Regions from separate parts of the Homo sapiens genome. Here regions 1, 2 and 3 are each reported to be linked to region 4. Evidence: microRNA targets listed by miRTarBase, many of them from high-throughput screens and not tested one by one. Region 4 holds a microRNA gene; each other region holds the end of a gene's coding sequence.
Evidence for each region. The annotated mature microRNA hsa-miR-151a-5p reads UCGAGGAGCUCACAGUCUAGU and lies in region 4 at 1,704-1,724, shown strand. An mRNA with a match to its seed (bases 2 to 7 or 8) in the 3' UTR can be bound and repressed. Matches are read on the target gene's strand: a 7mer-m8 pairs with bases 2 to 8, a 7mer-A1 pairs with bases 2 to 7 and ends in A, and an 8mer does both.

Region 1: the mRNA of SNX11 is a reported target of hsa-miR-151a-5p. The part of its 3' UTR that is shown has no 7-base or 8-base seed match.
Region 2: the mRNA of ZNF512 is a reported target of hsa-miR-151a-5p. The part of its 3' UTR that is shown has no 7-base or 8-base seed match.
Region 3: miRTarBase lists CBLB as a target of hsa-miR-151a-5p. Seed matches in the 3' UTR shown: 7mer-m8 at 386-392.

The regions. Positions count from the first base shown.
Region 1 is chr17:48,120,708-48,125,790 of GRCh38, forward strand. SNX11 (sorting nexin 11) reads left to right here. Exons shown (of 7, transcript NM_013323.3): 7 at 528-2,894. The coding sequence ends at 801. Among named protein-coding and RNA genes, the nearest start is that of SNX11, 15 kb to the left of the region's middle.
Region 2 is chr2:27,620,498-27,625,580 of GRCh38, reverse strand. ZNF512 (zinc finger protein 512) reads right to left here. Exons shown (of 14, transcript NM_032434.4): 14 at 2,364-4,428. The coding sequence ends at 4,120. Among named protein-coding and RNA genes, the nearest start is that of CCDC121, 6.0 kb to the left of the region's middle.
Region 3 is chr3:105,654,174-105,659,256 of GRCh38, reverse strand. CBLB (Cbl proto-oncogene B) reads left to right here. Exons shown (of 19, transcript NM_170662.5): 19 at 28-3,796. The coding sequence ends at 287. Among named protein-coding and RNA genes, the nearest start is that of CBLB, 210 kb to the left of the region's middle.
Region 4 is chr8:140,729,347-140,734,346 of GRCh38, reverse strand. It overlaps MIR151A (microRNA 151a), which reads left to right and starts at 1,694; the gene lies at 1,694-1,783. All of the region lies in intron 25 of PTK2 (protein tyrosine kinase 2), which reads left to right.

The DNA of each region.
Region 1 (5,083 bases), not on the chromosome of region 4:
CACCGTGTTAGCCAGGATGGCCTCCATCTCCTGACCTCGTGATCTGCCCACCTCGGTCTCCCAAAGTGCTGGGATTACAGGCGTGAGCCACCACGCCCGGCCTCTTTTTTATTTTTTTAAATTGAGATAGGGTTTCACCAGGTTACCCAGGTTGGTCTCCACCTCCCAGACTCAAATAATTCACCATGCCCAGCCATTTTTTTTTTTTTTAATCGGGCAGCCTCCTGAGTCAGAACAGGCTCAGAGAGACTTCCCTTTCTGTTCATTTTTGTTTATATGTTCATACTTTTTTTTCTGAGACAGAGTCTCACTCTGTTGCCCAGGCTGAAGTGCAGTGGTGTAATCATAACTCACTGCAGCCTTGACCTCCAAGGCTCAAGCAATCTTCTGGCCTCAGCTTCCTGAGTAGTTGGGATTACAGGCACATGCCAACATCCCTGGCTAATTTATTTTTTTGTAGAGACGGAGTCTCCCTATGTTACCCAAGCTGTTCATACCTTTCTTTTCCCTTTCCCACTCTTTTCCAGTTGCTGCTTTCTTCCAAGATCGGGTAGGAGGAGCTCTCCCTCACCGCCTCCCAGTGAAGAAAAGGACCATTTAGAAGTGTGGGCTCCAGTTGTTGACTCTGAGGTTCCTTCCTTGGAAAGTCCCACTCTCCCACCCCTCTCCTCACCATTATGCTGTGATTTTGGAAGACCCAAAGAGGGAACCTCCACTCTTCAGTCTGTGAGGAGGGCTGTGGGAGGAGATCATGCTGTGCCTTTGGACCCTGGTCAGTTAGAAACAGTTTTGGAAAAGTGAGCTCTGGGTTCTGCTCTGAGATGGTCAGAGAAGATGCGGGCCAGGAGACTTACTCAGGTGGGACTGGGCACAGGGCAGGTATGTGGGAGGCTGGGCTGCTTAGTGTCTTCTAGTCACCTCTGCTTGGGCTGATTGACAGAGGTCAGTCATTACAGCCCCTTATGCCTCTTCCATGGGAACAAATACTGTGCAGATGTTTGTAAGTTAAACATAAGACACAGGGGCTGTTGCTTTTGAACAGAACCCTATATTACTCTCCTGGGATCTGAGTTTCTGCAGGTCATTTGTATGTAGGACCAGGAGTATCTCCTCAGGTGACCAGTTTTGGGGACCCGTATGTGGCAAATTCTAAGCTGCCATATTGAACATCATCCCACTGGGAGTGGTTATGTTGTATCCCCATCTTGGCTGGCTTCAGTTTTTGCTGTAGCCCTAGAGCACTTTGTTTGTGGGAGGCTGGCCTCTTGCCTACCTCCTTGCATGGACAGGGGGATGAATATTTACTTTCCCACCTCCTTGCTTTTTCTTTCACTGATACCACTGAATGGAACTGGTGCTGTGACTCCTGCTGCTGGGGATTTATGTCCCGAGACCTTAGCCTGGCTGAGTGGAGCCTGAGACCTGCACAACAGCTCATGGTCATGCATGAGAGAGAAGTGGCTGGCCACAGCCAGAGGGAACAGTAACAGCCCAGGGGCCTTTATTTTGGGAAAGGCTGTCCCGGGCTGTTACTGTCTCTTCTGGTTATAAAGCAGACATGTGGCCATCTTTTCCGCAGGGTTAGAGTGGGCTCCTTTCTTTTTGGAATCCTTTTCTTCTCCTTTGGTAGCAGCTCCCTGCCTCCAGGGCTTCCGCCACCAGCGTCTCTGCTGTGTTGCGCAGTGCAGTGGGGTGCAAGGGCTTTGTTTCTGCCTGCCTGAAAGAGAGGGCTCTGGGGATGGAGATGAGAAACAACACGCTCTCCTTCAGACAATGAGGCATTCTGTCCTCCTGCTGCCATTCTTCATCTCCACTGAGAGCCAGAGCTGGTAGGAGCCGAGTGCCACAGGCATTCTGCATTGCTCTACTCTTAGGTTTGTGTGTGTGATCCTTCCCCTCCCTGTCGCCCACTCCTCCCTCCTCTGGCTATCCTACCCTGTCTGTGGGCTCTTTTACTACCAGCCTATGCTGTGGGACTGTCATGGCATTTAGTTCAGAGTGGAGGGGCTTTGGCCTGAAATAAAATGCAAGTATTTAAGATTGTTGTTGCAATTTGTGTCTAACAAGCTGTAGCAGAGAAGGAGGGAGTGAGCGCTGGCAGTATTTCCTTTCATAAATCATGAATTTATCAGTGTGGAAATAATGCTTCAGAACTGTGCTCTGTAGCCCTCCTGCATTGTGTGTGCAGCTCAAGTTCACCACTGGAGGAAGGATTGTCTTCCAAAGAGCTGGGATCCAACTCTTCTCACAGTTCTGGGCGTGAACCTTGTTAGGTATAATTTACCTGATGCTGCTTCCATCCTCGCAGTCTGTCTGAGGTGCCAGGTGCTGAAAGAGAAATAAAGTTTGTCAACAGGCAGATGCAAAGCCCTGGCTGGTATTCATCCCTCTTTCCTGCCCGCCTCCCCTGGGTCTCTCCTTTATATGATGCAGCAGAGCAAGGCGAGGATAGAAAACCTACAGAGGCAAATCCAAAATGTCAGAAGAAGTTCATTTAAAAGGGGAAAAAAACTCCATGTGCAACCCTCACAAAAACCCGACAGATGCTAAGCTAATGGCATCCGCTCTGCCGATTGGTGGGGATGGCTCATGAATATTAATGAGCCCAATGCTCCAAATGGTGCAGCTGTGAACCCAGCTGTGCCTGAAGCTCTCTGATCTCGAAACTTCCAGACAGGAGCTGGAGGTGGTCTGTGTCAATTCCCTACTCAGCCAAAAAAACAGCAAGCTGGGTTGGCCTTCTTCTGTTTGCTCCTTTTCTTCCTGGAGTTGGTGCTCAGCAGCTAGTTCTGCCAGCCGGCTAGGCTGCTGGGACAGCAGGAGCCATTCAAAGACATGGATGTGATTTTTCTGACTCCCAGCTTTTTTAATGATCCATTAGCAGCATGCATACAACAGCACCTCAGTTAATCTAAGGCCAGGCACCATCTCTTTTCAGTCTCTCTCTTAACTGAGTATAGGCCTTGGAAGGAGAAGTCCTAGGAAGGAAAGCACTTTTCTAATAATACAAGCCTAGGGTCATCCGAAAAATAGCGCACATGAGTTTTCCTCTCCATCCAGATAGTGCCATAGGCCCCTCTTCTGTTTTGCTCTGTCCCTGCGTGTGCCCAGGTCTAGCCACTGTGGCCAGATGACCTCTATGAAAGATGGAGGATTAGCTGTGGGGAGTGGCTCATTGAGCTGTTTTGTAGGATAAAAATATTTTGTTTAGAATTTAGTTTTGAGTCAAGTTCTGTCCTGATGTAGTCACCTTTCTTCTGTCAGATACCTCCATGGCCCACATCTAGTCATCCATTACCCAGGATGACTGATTCCAAGCTTGTGGAGGTTGTTTGGTGGGAGGAAATGTGTTTGTGTGTGAGGGGGGTGTTTTCTTACATTAAAATACTAAGTTTTATAAACATAATTTTATTGGCCCTTCTCAGTGCCTAGCAAGGAAGGTAGGTTAGGTATATGCTCCTTTTTTCGTTGAGGAAACTGAGCTCAATGTTTTTGTGTGTGTTTTTTTATTTGTTTGTTTGTTTGTTTTGAGATGGGCAGCCTTTGCTGCCCAGGCTGGAGTGCAGTGGTACAATCTCGGCTCACTGCAACCTCCACCTCCCGGGGTCAAGCAGTTCTCCTGCCTCAGCCTCTAGAGTAGCTGGGATTACAGGGGCCTGCTACCACACCCAGCTAATTTTTGTATTTTTATTTTTATTTTATTTATTATGATTATTTTTTGACATGGACTCTTGCTCTGTTGCCAGGCTGGAGTGCAGTGGCGCCATCTTGGCTCACTGCAACCTACACCTCCCGGGTTCAAGTGATTCTCCTGCCTCAGCCTCCCGAGTAGCTAGGACTACAGGCACGTGCCACCACGTCCAGCTAATTTTTGTATTTTTAGTAGAGACGGGGTTTCACCATGTTAGCCAGGATGGTCTTGATCTCTTGACCTCATGTTCCACCTGCCTCAGTCTCCCAAAGTGCTGGGATTATAGGCGTGAGCCACCACGTTTGGCAATTTTTGTATTTTTAGTAGAGACGGGGTTTCACCATGTTGGCCAGGCTGGTCTTGAACTCCTGACCTCAAGTGATCCGCCTGCCTCAGCCTCCCAAAGTGCTCGGATTACAGGCGTGAGCCACTGTGCCCAGCCAAGTGTGGTTTTTTAAAAAGCATGTTTTTAGATGATGGTGGAATATGTTCACATGAGAGATACTTTCCAAGCTCTGTGAGACAAGTCCCCTACCACTCCAAAAAAGAAAAAGTCTACCACTACATTCAAGGAAAAAAACAACAACCCTGCAGGGCTTTTCAGAATTGTTCTCAGAAATCAGAGCTCTTTCACAGTTCTTAGTTTTCTCATGCTAAGGCCTTACATCCATACTACCGAGTCCAAGGTACCTCCTATCCTCTCTGTTAGCTTTGCTTGGGAGGTGATAATGACTTTTTTTTTTTTTTTTTTTTGAGATGGAGTTTTGCTCTGTTGCCCAGGGTAGAGTGCAGTAGCATGATCTCGGCTCTCTGCAAACTTCACCTCCCGGGTTCAAGTGATTCTCCTGCCTCAGCCTCCTGAGTATCTGGGACTACAGGTGTCCACCACCACGCCTGGCTAATTTTTGTATTTTTATTAGAGATGGGATTTCACCATGTTGGCCAGGCTGGTCTCAAACTCCTGACCTCGGGTGATCTGCCCTCCTTGGCCTCCCAAAGTGCTGAGATTACAGGTGTTAGCCACTGAGTCTGGCCTTATTAGAGATACGACTTCTTAGGGGGGAAAAACACTTCTATTTTAGCCATGACTGGATTTGGAGTTGGAAAGCTGGAGACCTCAAATCTCAAGATATAATAAACAGACAACTTATGCTCAAAATGTTAACAAGAACTACACTTCCTAGGAGACAGAGTCCTCCTGACTGAATAAGCAGAGTGAATAATTTTACTTTTCTTTTGTTCAGGGGAGATCTGGTCTATTTTCACAAGCAAAGGAGAAGGAAAAAAAGCCAAGGGGTACTTTCATGGTTGCCAAAGGGTCACAGATAATAAACAGAGGTGACAAAGCTAGGGTGTGAGAATTAGGAGACTACTGGGAAGTCTCTAAGGTTT
Region 2 (5,083 bases), not on the chromosome of region 4:
ATGTCTTATTCACATGTGCAAATAATAAAAACTAGTTTTAATGCAGAAATTAGGATTTTAGCATACAGGTACTTTAACCTAAATCTCAATTTGTGAGCTGAAAATACAGAAACACTGAACAAGGAAAGCATGGTATCCAAGACAAACTTGAAGGCTTAGTCTCTGTGGACGTAAAAACCCTAAGACAATGTATTTCTAAGGCTGATAAAAAGTTGGAAAGTAGGAAGCATATTAGTTCTGTTAATTCCCCTCCTGCCACTGGTGTCCCAATTATCTAATTCAAGAGTGGGTAACTTCCACCTGATCTCAGTTCATTTTTACTTATCATCCCAGGTAATGGATATGGTATACTGCTTGTGGCTGTCCCTTCCAGAGTGAGGGCTTGAAGACATTAAAAGTTGAATGATAACTGATTTCATACCTTGAAATCCATACCTCTAAGTAAGCAGCAAGTTGGCCAACTAAGATTTCAATCTGCATTTTGTCTGCTTTGCTATTTAGAAAATTACACAGGGTTATGTTACAGAAAGTGAGTTTAGATGGAAAAGACCTCTGAGGTGAAATTTAAGACCTATGATTGCTAAAATGAAGCCTACAATGCAAAAACTGGGGAAGAAACTATTCTAGGCAGAGGCAACAGTGAATGCAAATGCCTTAAGATGGCAATAAGCTTGGTAGGTTCAAGGAACAGAAAGGTGTGTATGTAAAGTATAGTTGAGGAATGGTCACAGAACATGAGTGGAGGAAAGGAAGATGAGGCTATTAAGGCTAGCAGGAGTTTAGGCACCGAGGGCCTTTAGCAGGTGAATGAGGTCTGATTTACCTAATTTTAAAAACTACAACTGTTATGTGGAGTGTATCCAAGCCAGAAAAAAGTGGAAGGAAACCAATTACGAAGATACTGTAGTCTAGGCAAGAGGTAATGATGGCTTAGATTGGAATGGCAGAAGTAGAGTGAACAGATTCAAAATGTAGTTGGTGGTAGGCAGGACTTGCTAATGGATTTGCTATAAGAAGAGAGAGATGAAGCAAGAGTAAATTTCTAAAATGTTCTCTTTTAAGGAGATGTGCAGAATATTCTTTGTATTTTTTTAGACGGTCTCACTGTGTCACGCAGGCTGGAGTGCAGTAGTGTGATCACAGCTCATAGCAGCATCTTGACCTCCTGGACCCAAGAAGTCCTCCCATCTCGGCCTCCCAACTAGCTGGGACTATAGGTGCACACCACAATGCCCAGCTAATTTTTTTAATTTTTTTGTAGAGATGAGATTTCATCACATTGCCCAGGTTGGTCTAGAACTCCTGAGCTCAAGCGATCCTCCAGCCTCAGCCTCCCAAAACGTTAGGATTACAGGTGTGAGCCACTGTGCCTGGCCCCAGACATTGAGACATATTCATGATGATACGAGAAACCCTACTCAATTTTATAGCTTGTATAGTATTCTACTGTATGACTATATCACAATTTATCCATTCTGATAATGGATAATTATTGTGTATTAGAGTAGGCTAACAAAGAGACCCAAGAATGTATAATGTCTCAAATAACAGACATTTATTTCTTGCTCACTTAATAGTCTCAGATACATGTTCCTGGTTGGCAAGTGGCTCTCCTTCAACAGGTGATTCAGGGGGTCAAGATATCTTCCATTTTGTGTTCTTCCATCTCCTAGGGCCCCATCATCATCTGCATTTAGCCAGAAGAAGGGTAAAGAAAGCTTGGAGGTACACCCACTCAAAAGTTCTAACCTGCAAGTGGCATTCATCACTCCACTCACATTCCATGGGAGAGGAGTTAGCTGGCTTCTCCTTCACTAGAGAGAGTGGAGGGAAGGGGGATAACTAGGAAATATACAGTCTAGCCATTTGTTCTATAATCCCATAATTTGCAAAGGTGAAAGTAGATCTCTGATACTTGTTTTCAGTATTTCTCTACTGTAAACTGTACTGCAATAATCATTCTTTTTTGTGTCTCTTGGTACGCCTAGACAAAAGGAGTTACTCTGTGTATACCCAGGAGAGAAACTGCTAAGTCTTCGGGTACATATCTTCAACTCTGCTAGATACTGCCAAATCACTTTTGAAGTGATTGTACCAATTTGCATTCCAAACCATGTATGAAAGTTCATAATACTGTCAAACTTAGTTTGTTAGTCTAATGAATTTTTTTTAAAAAAACTTTAAAACTCAATACTGTGATTAGAATAGTCTATACTGAGTCCTGCTGATCCCTGGTCTTGGTCAGGAAAAACGAAAGGAATGCCTGCAAGAGGTCCCTGGATGAAACTGGGCAAGTTTCCTATACTAATTCACTTTAATCTCAAACTACTCATTTTAACCAGCATAATTCATGAACCAAAGAATTACTGAGACAACTGCATGTGGAATTTATTTCAAACTCACCCCCATCTCTAGCCATCTTCTTACCCCCATACAGTGTCAAGGAGTCATGCAGCAGGTCGGCGTCAAAGAACACTGGAAACATCTTTCTGAGAGTCATTTATTTCTTTTGTCATTGCCAAACATTCCCCAGGTCTTACTCACCAGAAATTAACATAGCTTCTTCATTTCTCCTCCCTGACAACCCTCATCTACTGAAAGGGCTTTAAGGGCACACTGCCAATGAAAATGCAGAGTGCATATACCATGTCCTTAACTTGTTTCAAAACTACCTATTCTGGCAGTATCCAATTCAGGTTTCAGTGCTCCCTTGTTTGAAAGTGGTCTTCACAAAAGCCCACATTTTAAAGCTATTTGGAGGAGCACAAAGAGTTAAAGTGGTAATAGCCTTTCAGAATTTGAAAAGGTAGTACTTGTCTATATCAGGTTCATTTTTTATGTGGCATATGCCACAAAATAGGCAAGAATATATAAGACCAATATTTACGCAAAATGGGGAAGAGAATCCAGAAACACGACAACAAAGCTGCTCTAACCAATGTTCCAGAGAAAGCCACCCTCAAAGAGAAATAACCCATTAAACATTACCAGATAGGCATGAGGTACAGAAAAAGAATTTTTCTTTCCAGCTCCAGATAAATATCTACATCTGGTGTCAAAGTCTCAGGATATAAAGAGGAGAGAACTCCATATATAAAAGAGGATAGGACAATATTCTCAGAAAATTCAAAAAGACAGAGGTTGGCTAAGGGGATGGGTGGAAACAGTGGGGCGTAGACTAACAAGTAAGGTAAAGTCCAGGGAGAAGGAATGCGCACCTTGGTTTTCCCTTAGTGGCACTACCAGGAGCACTAGGAGACTGTCAAAACATCAGGGGCAATGTGATATTTCTCAATTCTTAAAACCAAAGAAGCAAAAATAAGCTTCAGAGGGCAAGTGATCATAGCTATGGATGAGGCCTCGGGCTCCAGGAAAGTTGGGGCAGTATTTATTGCTGCTTCTACTTTCTCTTTCCTGTCATTTTAATGTTTGGGTCACTTTACTCCTAAGGTTGCTTTTCATGTCTGTGGGTCTAGTCACTGCTACTTGGTACAAAGCATTTCCCAGTATAAACAGCATAGGGTAGTTCTAGAGTTTTCATCCTAAATCCGTTTTCTTACTTTCAATCTTAAAACCATATTGAGAGGACAAACAGCCTCCATAAAGTTTTTTTCCCAAGGAGACAGAGTAATCTTATTATGTGAATGACAACAGTTCTAACTTCTAGACTTGTTATATCACAAATACAAAATGACAAATCAGTTATGGTTTTAAAAAATTAGTTTGGAATGGTTTCACAAGCTAGATGATGGAGCAGCTACTAAATCAATGGAGCTTCCAAGAACATTCTATACCCCAGGAAGGAAAGGACAACCAAAGAGGTTTCTTAGTTTTGTACAGGGCAAGAGGAGCCTATAGTTGGCCTTGAGAGGGAGCTCTTTGGGCAAGATAAAAAAACAAGAGGACTTGACGAGGAATAGCAGGAAAACCTACTAAAAGGGGAGGGGGGAATCAAAATGTAAGAAGGGAAGACAGTGAAATTTACACAGGAGGAAGGAGCTGAGAAAGTCACAGCCTTACACAAACAGCTGAAAGAATCTTCACTCAGTCCTCCCAGCACAGGTCCCCGTGACAACAGCATCACATCTGCTTTCCTAGGAGCACTTTTACACTGACTGCCTATTTCCTTCCTCGTTTATGATTAGTCTTTGGGGGCTTTACTTTCTGGAACTGTGCTGGCACTGGCTCCTGCTCTGGTTCCTTACAGGAGGCTGACACTACCAGTTCCTCATTATTCCTCCTCTGATCCTTCCCTACTCTAAGACTCAGCTCTGTCTCGGGAAGCTCAATGCCAGGCTGCTGCCGCCTTCTTAGAGACCTTCTGCTCCTGTGCTGCTGCCTCCGCTTTTCTTCTTCTTGCTGCCGCTGCTTTATCTTCATCAGCTTTTCAAAGCTTTTGGTTGTTGTTGGGTTTACAACGAACCAGTCCTAGAGAGGCAAAATAGAAATGTCATCCAGTCGAAAATATAGTGAAGAACATAAAGAAAGGTGGAGGAAGAATGGAAAAAAGGCATGATTAGGGCAGAACACAGTAAGAAGGAAACAGATATGGAACCATACCTCAGGATTCTATATTTTAAGATGGAGAAATCCAACACAGAGCAGCTATTACAAGCACATATTTTGTAAGGCGTAATTCTAGGGACTTTAATAAATGATCTACAAAGTCTGTTTACTTAGCATCATCCCACTCTTATATCTCCTGAGTATAAATCTCATCATGAGATGTAACACACTGAGCCATAGGAGATTTTTATTCCATGACGGCATCGTAACTAAGAGCATAAATTTTGCAGCCAGACCCCCTGGGTGCAAATCCCAGCTCTGTTTCTAGATACGTGACCATGGGCGAATTACTTAACATTTTCGAGGCTCACTTTAAAAAATTAAGGGGTAGGGGACATGAAATCCAATTATGAAGTATTTTTGCCAAAAAAGAAAGAACTTCAATCTTATCAAGTGATCTGTTCAATCTTCTAAATCTACCAATTCATAGGAAAAGCCAGAATAGGGAGTTGAGCCCAATCTCTCTGCCCCACTGCAAGACTCCACTGCAGTGGTCCCTGTACCTCAAAAACAAACA
Region 3 (5,083 bases), not on the chromosome of region 4:
AGTATCTCTCTTTAAAAATCTACACAGATGGTTCACAGGCACCAGCCAGACCCCCTAAACCACGACCGCGCAGGACTGCACCAGAAATTCACCACAGAAAACCCCATGGGCCTGAGGCGGCATTGGAAAATGTCGATGCAAAAATTGCAAAACTCATGGGAGAGGGTTATGCCTTTGAAGAGGTGAAGAGAGCCTTAGAGATAGCCCAGAATAATGTCGAAGTTGCCCGGAGCATCCTCCGAGAATTTGCCTTCCCTCCTCCAGTATCCCCACGTCTAAATCTATAGCAGCCAGAACTGTAGACACCAAAATGGAAAGCAATCGATGTATTCCAAGAGTGTGGAAATAAAGAGAACTGAGATGGAATTCAAGAGAGAAGTGTCTCCTCCTCGTGTAGCAGCTTGAGAAGAGGCTTGGGAGTGCAGCTTCTCAAAGGAGACCGATGCTTGCTCAGGATGTCGACAGCTGTGGCTTCCTTGTTTTTGCTAGCCATATTTTTAAATCAGGGTTGAACTGACAAAAATAATTTAAAGACGTTTACTTCCCTTGAACTTTGAACCTGTGAAATGCTTTACCTTGTTTACAGTTTGGCAAAGTTGCAGTTTGTTCTTGTTTTTAGTTTAGTTTTGTTTTGGTGTTTTGATACCTGTACTGTGTTCTTCACAGACCCTTTGTAGCGTGGTCAGGTCTGCTGTAACATTTCCCACCAACTCTCTTGCTGTCCACATCAACAGCTAAATCATTTATTCATATGGATCTCTACCATCCCCATGCCTTGCCCAGGTCCAGTTCCATTTCTCTCATTCACAAGATGCTTTGAAGGTTCTGATTTTCAACTGATCAAACTAATGCAAAAAAAAAAAAGTATGTATTCTTCACTACTGAGTTTCTTCTTTGGAAACCATCACTATTGAGAGATGGGAAAAACCTGAATGTATAAAGCATTTATTTGTCAATAAACTGCCTTTTGTAAGGGGTTTTCACATAACATAGAGGAGCTTCCCTTTTTTGTTTAAGTTTTGTAACCTTTAATCCTCCATATTCTCATGTCTGTCATCCCAGGGGTGTCACAACTGTAAAAATCTACAATATTAGAAAGCAGCTACTACAGATGTGGAAGAGAGAACACTTGTATAAGACAATGCTGTACTGAAGTTATATAACAAGGTCCCCTGATACTTATGCCTGCATTACTTTGAGGGATGCTGAATGAGAGGACCATCTCCCTGAAATATATTAATAATTTTCAGATAAAATTATGAACATAACATACCTTTTCTCAAGTGGAATTAGAGTTCATTTCCCATTTAAGTGATTACACTCTATCTCCTAAGAGCTGTGGGAACCAGTTCATATTGCAGTGGAAACATTAACTCTTCGTTGCACTGTTGAGTGTCAAGGCTACTGTGGCAATGTTTTTTGCAAAGTTCTCAGTAATTTTCTCTCTGCAATCAAATTAGAGTTCATATTTAATTTGCAGATTCTCTCATTCATTGCTCCACACTGCTTTATCAAATCAGGTGAAAGAAATTAATGTAGTTTTGCCTATTTTACAAAATGGTGGTTGGTTCTTTAAACACCATGTTATTACTCTTAATAAATCTACAAATATTTATTGAGCATCTATGATATGCTTGGTGCTGTTAGGCACTGTGTTTTTAAAGCACAAACTCTCAAAAGCTGATTCCAGCGTAATGTTTTATTTTTGTTTTTCTGTGTTTTTTATGACAAAGTCTGTCTGATAGACAAAGCCTGGAAGGTTTCCCCCAGGGCTTTAGAATTTAGAATTAGCTGGTTTTCATTTCAAATGGGAAATTAATGGAGAAATGAGATAAAATCATCTCTGTGTAAATGCTTGAACCCACAGAAAGTTTTCTAAATATGGACTAATTGTGGGTTTGTGCATATTTCTGTGTCTCCTCTTTTCACTTCACACCCACCATGATATAAAAAGATGCATCAGAGAGTGAGCCTGCCTTCAGGACCTGAAAGGACATGACTGAACATCTAGTAGATCTGGTGGAAATTAATGTTATACAAAAGACACGTAGACTAAGTTGACCCTGGGAGAGGAGTTAATACATTCCTTTGCAAAGTGACATGTGCCCTTTTTTTGACAGTCTGGCTTTCATGGTATGAGATGAGGACTCACAGGCCTTGGGTAATTTCTGCTTTTGTATGAATTTTTTCAGATGGTTCTGAGCTGGTTATGTCCCTGGAGGGGAATTTTTCATTTGCCTTAGATGTTCTTCCCATGAGTAGGTACATGAGTGAAGTTTCTTACACTTTTAAAATTGCATTGGCAAATTTTCTTTTGCTTTATGAACCCCTGTTTTGTCATTATGATTTTTCACTTGTTTTAACAGTTTCAGATGTCACCTTGGAATAGCACTGTTTATTTTGGCCTTTTTATGATTGCTGATGATAGGTACAGTCTAAAGGCCAAAAGTTGCCACTTCATTGTGATAACATTGTTGCAACATTCCTAATATATTAGAGAATGATGTAAAATAAGAATGTTAGAGAACATAGCACATTCTCATTCAGTTTATAAACAATATTTGAAAATTTCCAGTGAGAATTAAAAAAGGACTAGTGATGATATAGCAAACCTGGACCTGAAATTTGGGGGTGGGGGGTGGGGGGATATCTGTTTTGCAGAGAAAATTTACCAGCCTCCAGCAAAATCTCTGCATCTTGTACTCAATAGCAACCATTAGTATTGTCATTTAAAAAGAATGAATCAAAAATTCATACGTAATGGAATGAAAAGAGGAAAACTTTCTATTAAACACTGTCAAGAAAGACCCATTGCTATCTATCACCTATGAAATTAAACCTAAAAAAATTTTTTTTTATTGTAAAAGCGACTGCTCGTTGATGTCTGGAAGTGATCCAGACTTTGTTTCACTGTGATCCAAAAAGTTAGACATTCCTTCCATTTCTCAAGATTTGGTAACAATTTTTTTTTAAGTCAGCATTTCATATAATACATAAAATTAAGACAAATTAACTTACTGATATGTGGCCAATATCAACCCTTCTCACCCAACCCAAACATGTTCTGGAGATAGAAGGACTTATCCTCAATTATATTCCAGTAAATTTATCTCCATAATCTGTTTTATCCCCTAATGTATGATATATCTCACCAAATTTTTCTAGAATTGAATAAAAGCAGTTTTTGCTTAACTTGAATTTCCTTCCACAAATACAACCTTCAGCTCTTCCCTCTCTGTTTCCCTTTTGCCCACATTGCAAATAGTCTTCATAATAGAACCCTCACTGCAACTTAAAAGGGTCCCATTTCTTAACTCAGCATTTCATATACCAAGAACACTTGCAAAGATTTCTTCATAATGTGATTTTTTAATTTTTCAGTTCCAGAAGCATTTCCTACAGTTCGAACGTTATTTTTTCTCTCAGATTTTCAACTTGAAGCTTTGATTTGCACTGAATTAACTTGGATAAAATTTTAGTTTCTCTCTTCAGCTAACAGATTTGGAAGCAAATTACAGTATACTTGAATAATTCAGGTACTACCTGTTGACCTGGAATTTTAGTGATTCTGGGAAAGTTTTCCAGACAAAGACACCAATAGAGTGAAGGGTTTTTTCCCCAATTACTATTTTATTGTTTTTTAAAATGCCTTTTTAAAACTTGTGTGATGTGGCAAAATAGTCATATGTTCAATTAATTTATATTTTATTCATTCCTTTTCAATTCTGGTTATTATGTAACCTCAAGTACTTTATCTGTTCTTTTAAAGTATTTTATAAAATGAACGTTAACTAAATGCAGAGTTGGTACTTTATTTTTCAAATGAACACAAAAATTTTAGAGCATTTCTATGATGTAATTTTTCTTTTTCATGTCTAATTGAACAAAGTGGTGCAAGGTGTACCCATCCTAGGTAATTTAGTTATTAAGTACCAAAATCACAATTTTAAGGTAGCCTAATAGATAAAATTGCCCCTATGTCATAGATCTGAATGTCAAAGGTGTATCAAGGTTCCAAGTAAGAAATATCATATCTGGGAAATGCTGAAAGCCTTCAGGATGATGTACTATAATATATAATTGATAATTCCTGATCAACAGTACCATCTGGTCTTTAAATTCCTCATTTCTTAAATCATTTTTTCACTGATCAGTATATAGTGGGGAGAGAACAACAGAGATAACAATGTTAATAATTGCTTTTATATCAAGAATCATGGCAGAATATTGTGAAACTAATTGTTACATGCAAAGTTCCGTGCATAGTAATAACAATTACTTCCTGGAAGCATATACCATGAAATGGAAGATACACATAAGCAAGTAATTCCAGTACAAAAATGTGTGTACAACATACCACATTGTACTAGAATTACGTCTGTATGATAAGTGCTTAAGAACTAATTATTGAGCCTTTATTATGTGTAAGGAGCTTAGTGTCAAAGCATTTAATGCTTTCGACAACCCTGCCTCTTTTAGGACTGTGGAAGGGAAGTTGGGAATTATATTTCTAATAGAAAGTTTGACAACCCATAAGACTAAGTAGTCTTTTGTAAGCCTAAAAGGAGCAAGGATTTGTTGTTGGTATTAAGAAAGAAATTCAGAGTTAAAGCTTTTCAAATAGGAAGAGCACACATGATAAAATATTGTTATTTAAGCAAAGGTGAGATGCCGCTCATCATCACTTCAGTGCTTTGAGAAGACTTGTTCTTCTCTCCTAAAAGCCCCCCCTCCCCCCGGGAAACCTCTGTGGGACTCATTAAGAGGCTGGTGGCAGAACTTCCATTCCTGTGTCCTAAGAGTCATCATGAGCAGAAGAGGATGGGCTGGAGGGTTACCTGGGAAAAGTGAGTGATGAGTGAGAATGTTCTGGGTTTGGTCCACCTCTCCCAATTCAACTAATGATAGCTCCCAGAGAACACCAATTATAGATATTAGGGAACTGGCATTTTATTCTGTTAGAGTCCACACAGTGGACTTACTGATCTGCCATCTGCGGTTACTAGAGCAGAGCAGAACATAACTAGAGAGGAGTCAACAGTGAATCAGGTAATAAGCATCTCCACCATTGGGAGAACAAGGA
Region 4 (5,000 bases):
TAAACAAGATACTGTAATATAACACATAGGCATGAGAAGCTTTATTATATAAACAATACCATGGTTCAGTGTGTGCTGTGTCACCTGTTTTCACACTTGGGGACTTCCTCCATTTTATGTGAGTTTTTATGGGTTTGTTTTTCATGCTGTATTTTAGTCTTTTTCCTAAAAATCATCAACTGCAGGGTCCAGGCCTTTCACCATCTAGCCCAGCCTTCTCACCACATGTTCAAGCTGTTCAACCTGCTAGACAGGATTCCTTTTAAGGAGAGTATTTCAAAGAAGAATTAAGACCTATAGGTAGAAGCACAAAGGATTCATCCAGTCTGAAAATGTTTGCTAAGCACCTTTGTTATTCTAAGCTAGGTTCTGTGGGTCCAACAGTGAACAAGACCCAATCCCTGCCCCCAGAGAGTTTAAAGTCTGGTGGAGGAGACCGAGGTATCACTGGTTATTACAATACAGTGAGCCCCACATTGGAAAGACCAGCCACGCTCTTGGTCTCCGTCCCCATAACTCTCACACACCGGCCTGGTTCTACTTTTCAAGGCCCCATAGAACAACCCTACTCTGCCTTTCACACGATAGGCCTTCAGGGTAATTCTAAACAGCTTCCTTACCTCCTCTTAGTTTCTTCAAGCCAAAAATCTTCAGTTCCTTAATTAATTCTCATATAACTTAACTGCCTATTCTCTCACCTTTACAGCTGGCTTTTGGACATGCTTTATTGCATGTTGTTTTGCTCCTATTTGTTCCTCCTTGATCTTTCCTCAGGATTTGACAGATTCTGTCCTTGGCATTGTTCCTCTCTGATACCAGTTCTATCACCCCACCTCCCTGGCATCTCTTTCTACCTCATTGACTTGCCATCTCTCCACCTTTACCATGAATATTAACCAAATTTCTGTTTTCAGCCTCTTATTTTCTCCCATTTTCTCTCATTACTCTTCCCAGGATGTCTGACCCATTCACATGGCTTTGCTGCTTACCTCTGTCTGTCTATAGTTCTGGTCCTGCCCTTTTCTCAAGTCCCAAACCTACATTTTAAATTGCTGGCTGGGCATCATGTTTATCCAGAAAGCAAGCTGTTACATTCTCTTCTATGCCAGCCCTTCCTCCTCACTTCCTCCAGGTTGGAATAGTGCCTTTATCTTCGGCACCATCTTGGAGTCATGCTTCACTCCTTGTGCCTGCCCCCCACCCTCCATCCCACGCTCTTTTCCCATCTGTCTGGCATGACCAGCTTAGTCAATCTTCCTGAAATGTCACTGGAAAAATAACTCCCCTGGTCAAAACAACTTTCAGTGGGGTTTTGTCACCTTTTATGTTTGGGTAAAGGCTTCCACAGTAACATTTAGGCCTCATTTCATTATGGCCTGAGATTGTCTTCTCATCCCTTTCACACACAGTAGCTAAACTAACCCTCCTGTCAGCCCAGAATGCCTCCTTCTTCATTTGGGGAGATCTTACCCATCTTTCTCGGCTTCTTTCACGCACTGGGTCTTCTGTGACTTCACAGCTGACTAGCCTTCACCCTCTGAGTCTCCAAAGCTCTTTGTTCTTCTTGTCAGGCTTACCCTATGCTGCTATAGATGGCTGCAACCCGTGTTCAATTCAGTTCGATAAACACTGTTGAGCACCTACAGTAGCTGAGCCTGGTGCTAGTCACTGGGGCAAAGATGACTAAAACACTTTTCCTGCCCTCGAGGAGCTCACAGTCTAGTATGTCTCATCCCCTACTAGACTGAAGCTCCTTGAGGACAGGGATGGTCATACTCACCTCGGTGTTGCCCAAACCTCCAGGCCAGTAGCCTAGCTAGCTAGATACAGGAAGAGTCACCCAGGCACTGAATTCAAGGCTTAGAACATATGAGTGATTCTTAATACTAAGGAATGCTCCACTGAGGTAAATTATCTCCAAAAAGTATCCAATACATATTTTTAGAACTACATATAATTACTTTAAATAGGTACCTGTAGTATAATTTATGGATATCTTCTTATATACTACTAGCACAGGTAGTTGAGCATTCATTCATTCTGCATTGTTCTGTTTTAGAAATGGTGTTTAACTTTGCGTTTTGAACATATACAATTAGGCTACCAAATAGGCCACCATTTTATATTATAAAATGTCACTATATAATATAATTGCTTACTTGGACATTTGCATATAACAGTGTATCACAATAACTAAATAGGTTATTAATTTTTTTCAAAATTTTTATTATTTCCAAGATTTTAACAAAGAAATAATAAGTTTGGATAGCCCTTTGGTCGTTAAAATTATGGTAGTTAAAAATGTTTCCCAAATCCCATTCTTCTTCTTGACCTCGAAAGAATTCTCCTTCCCTACCTTGAAAGAATATTTGCAAGTAGACTCAAATTACTGTGGGATTCCCCTCATCTTTAACTGGAGTGTATGCGTGTGTATTTTATTTTGTTGAGGCGGGGTCTCCTCTGTTGCCCAGGCTAGAGTGCGGTGGCACCATCTCTGCTGCCTGCAACCTCCACCTCCCATGCTCAAGTGATTCTCCCACCTTAGCCTCCTGAGTAGCTGGGACTACAGGCATGCACACCACACCACCACACCCAGCTAATTTTTTGTATTTTTGGTAGAGATGGGGTTTTGCCATGTTGCCCAGGCTGGTCTCAAACTCCTGAGCTCAAGCAATCCACCCACCTTGGCCTTTCAAAGTACTGAGATTACAGGCATGAGCCACCATGCCCAGCCTTGTATATTTGTTTTTGACTATATTAGTTGAGAAGTGATTTTTGGTATGGAACATGTTGGGCAAACTCATAGGAAAATCACCTTGGTCCTACTTTGATGAGGTGATGTCTGTGACTCAAGGAACCTGTCCTTCCTACATCCTGTTTACTTATTCATAGGTATGAATTCATTGAGAAGTAGAATGAGATTAACCTGCCAGTGGCCTATTATCAAGTATAAAAAATTCCTCAATAGGAATACTTTCAATTGATCAACAGTGAAATTTTCTTATAATGCGTACTCTAGCATTTTTGTGCTTTATGACTGTCAGGTTATAAGAGCGCACCAAATATTTTTTGAGTGAAAAATCATTTAGCCGGGCGCAGTGGCTCAAGCCTGTAATCCCAGCAGTTTGGGAGGCCGAGGCAGGTGGATCACCTGAGGTCAGGAGCTCGAGACAAACCTGGCCAACATGGTGAAACCCCGTCTCTACTAAAAATACAAAAATTAGCCCGGCGTGGTGGCAGGCACCTGTAATCCCAGGTATTCAAGAGGCTGAGGCAAGAGAGTCGCTTGAACCTGGGGAGGCAGAGGTTGCAGTGAGCCGGTATTGCGCCATTGCACTCCAGCCCGGGAGACAAGAGTGAGACTTTGTCTCAAAAAAAAAAGGGGGGGGGGGGTTTAATTTAATTCCTGGTTACTTCAGTTAATTCTTTGTTAGGTACTATGACAGGGAAACCATAATAAACAGCTTTATTATTTGCCTTTTTGCAGGTATGTTCAAAAATAATATGTCCCAACAGTACTCTTCTTGACTAAGGTGTTGGTACCACTATTTTAAAAAAGAACATCAGCTTTATCTCATATTAGAAAAATATTTTAGGTTAATGTTAAAATTCTTAAATATATTTTAGGCAAATTAGGGCAGTAAACACAATTATCACTTTAAAATTTTGTGTTATGATTTTTGTATATTTTAAAACTTTTTATTGATGTTTAATAAACACACCAAGAAGTGACAGCTTACTGGATTTCCACCAGTTGGATACAGTCTGTCACCAGCAACCAAAATGAAAATACTACCAGCACCCCAGAAATCTTCCACATGCCCCTTTCTAATCACTGTTCACCCTCCAAGGGTAACCTCTATCTTGACCATAGATTGGTTCTGCCTGTTTTTGAACATGATGTAAATGGTATCAGTCAGTACTTACTTTATATATATAATTTATTTTACTCAACAGTTTGTGGGATTAATCCATGTTATTCGTGTAGTTATACTCAATTCTCATTGTTATATAGTGTTCCATTTGTGAATATCCTATAGTTTATTCCACTGTTGGTGGAAATTTGTATACTTCTAATTTGGGGCTATCAAGAATATTGCTCTGTGAAGTAGAGAGGATATAGTAAGTGTTGTGTAAACAGATTTACCTGAGGCTTTATGTTCTAAAGAACACCAGTCTCAAGTATCACCTTGGAAAGCAGTCCATGATTTTGAACTGGTCTTCTATCATTGAGCTCTTTAGGAATATTTTTAGAACCAGTACCATGTGCATTGATAGCAAGTCTCCATCCTCTGCAGTTAGCTCTTCTAGTTATAACATTGAAATAACTAGTAGTTATAGAGCAATGTCTGTTGGCAGGCATTGTGCCATGAACTTTTATACACTATTTCATCTTAATCCTCACAGTCCTGGGGCATACTACGTATAGGTAGTATCTTCATCGTTAGTTTACGATGATGAGGAGACTGAAACTGTGTGGTTAGGCACCTGATAGAAGGACACAGAGCTGGAATTCAAGCTAGGTCCACCTGAGTCCAGAGCTTGAGCTATAAGCTGTCATGCTCTACTGACTGCCTTGATGTTTATTGGCTAGAAGTCATTAAGTGTGCCTGCCATCTTATGATTTGGACTGGTGAGCAGGTTGTTAATATTGGTTAGTTAAAAAGGAAAAAGAAAGGAAAAAAATACTATTACAGAGAATTCCTGCAGCTTGTTTTCTTACATTGTTTGAGTATCAACCAAAGTCCTTAAAAGGAATGGCAGCATCACTAGCAGATGCACAGAGGCCCTACCCACGGGCTTTGAGGGGGACATGGCTTCCTTTTGTACTTTCAAAGTATTTTCTTACTGGTTTTACTTGTTTCATTGGCATATTTTGAGTGTGTTGTATTTTGCTTCTGTGGAACACAATAATTTCACATACAGTGGGGAGCCGATTTGGAAGTTTTGAACAAGTCACCCAGAGTTGACTTCAAGCAAATCAGAGCCAAGCCATGACA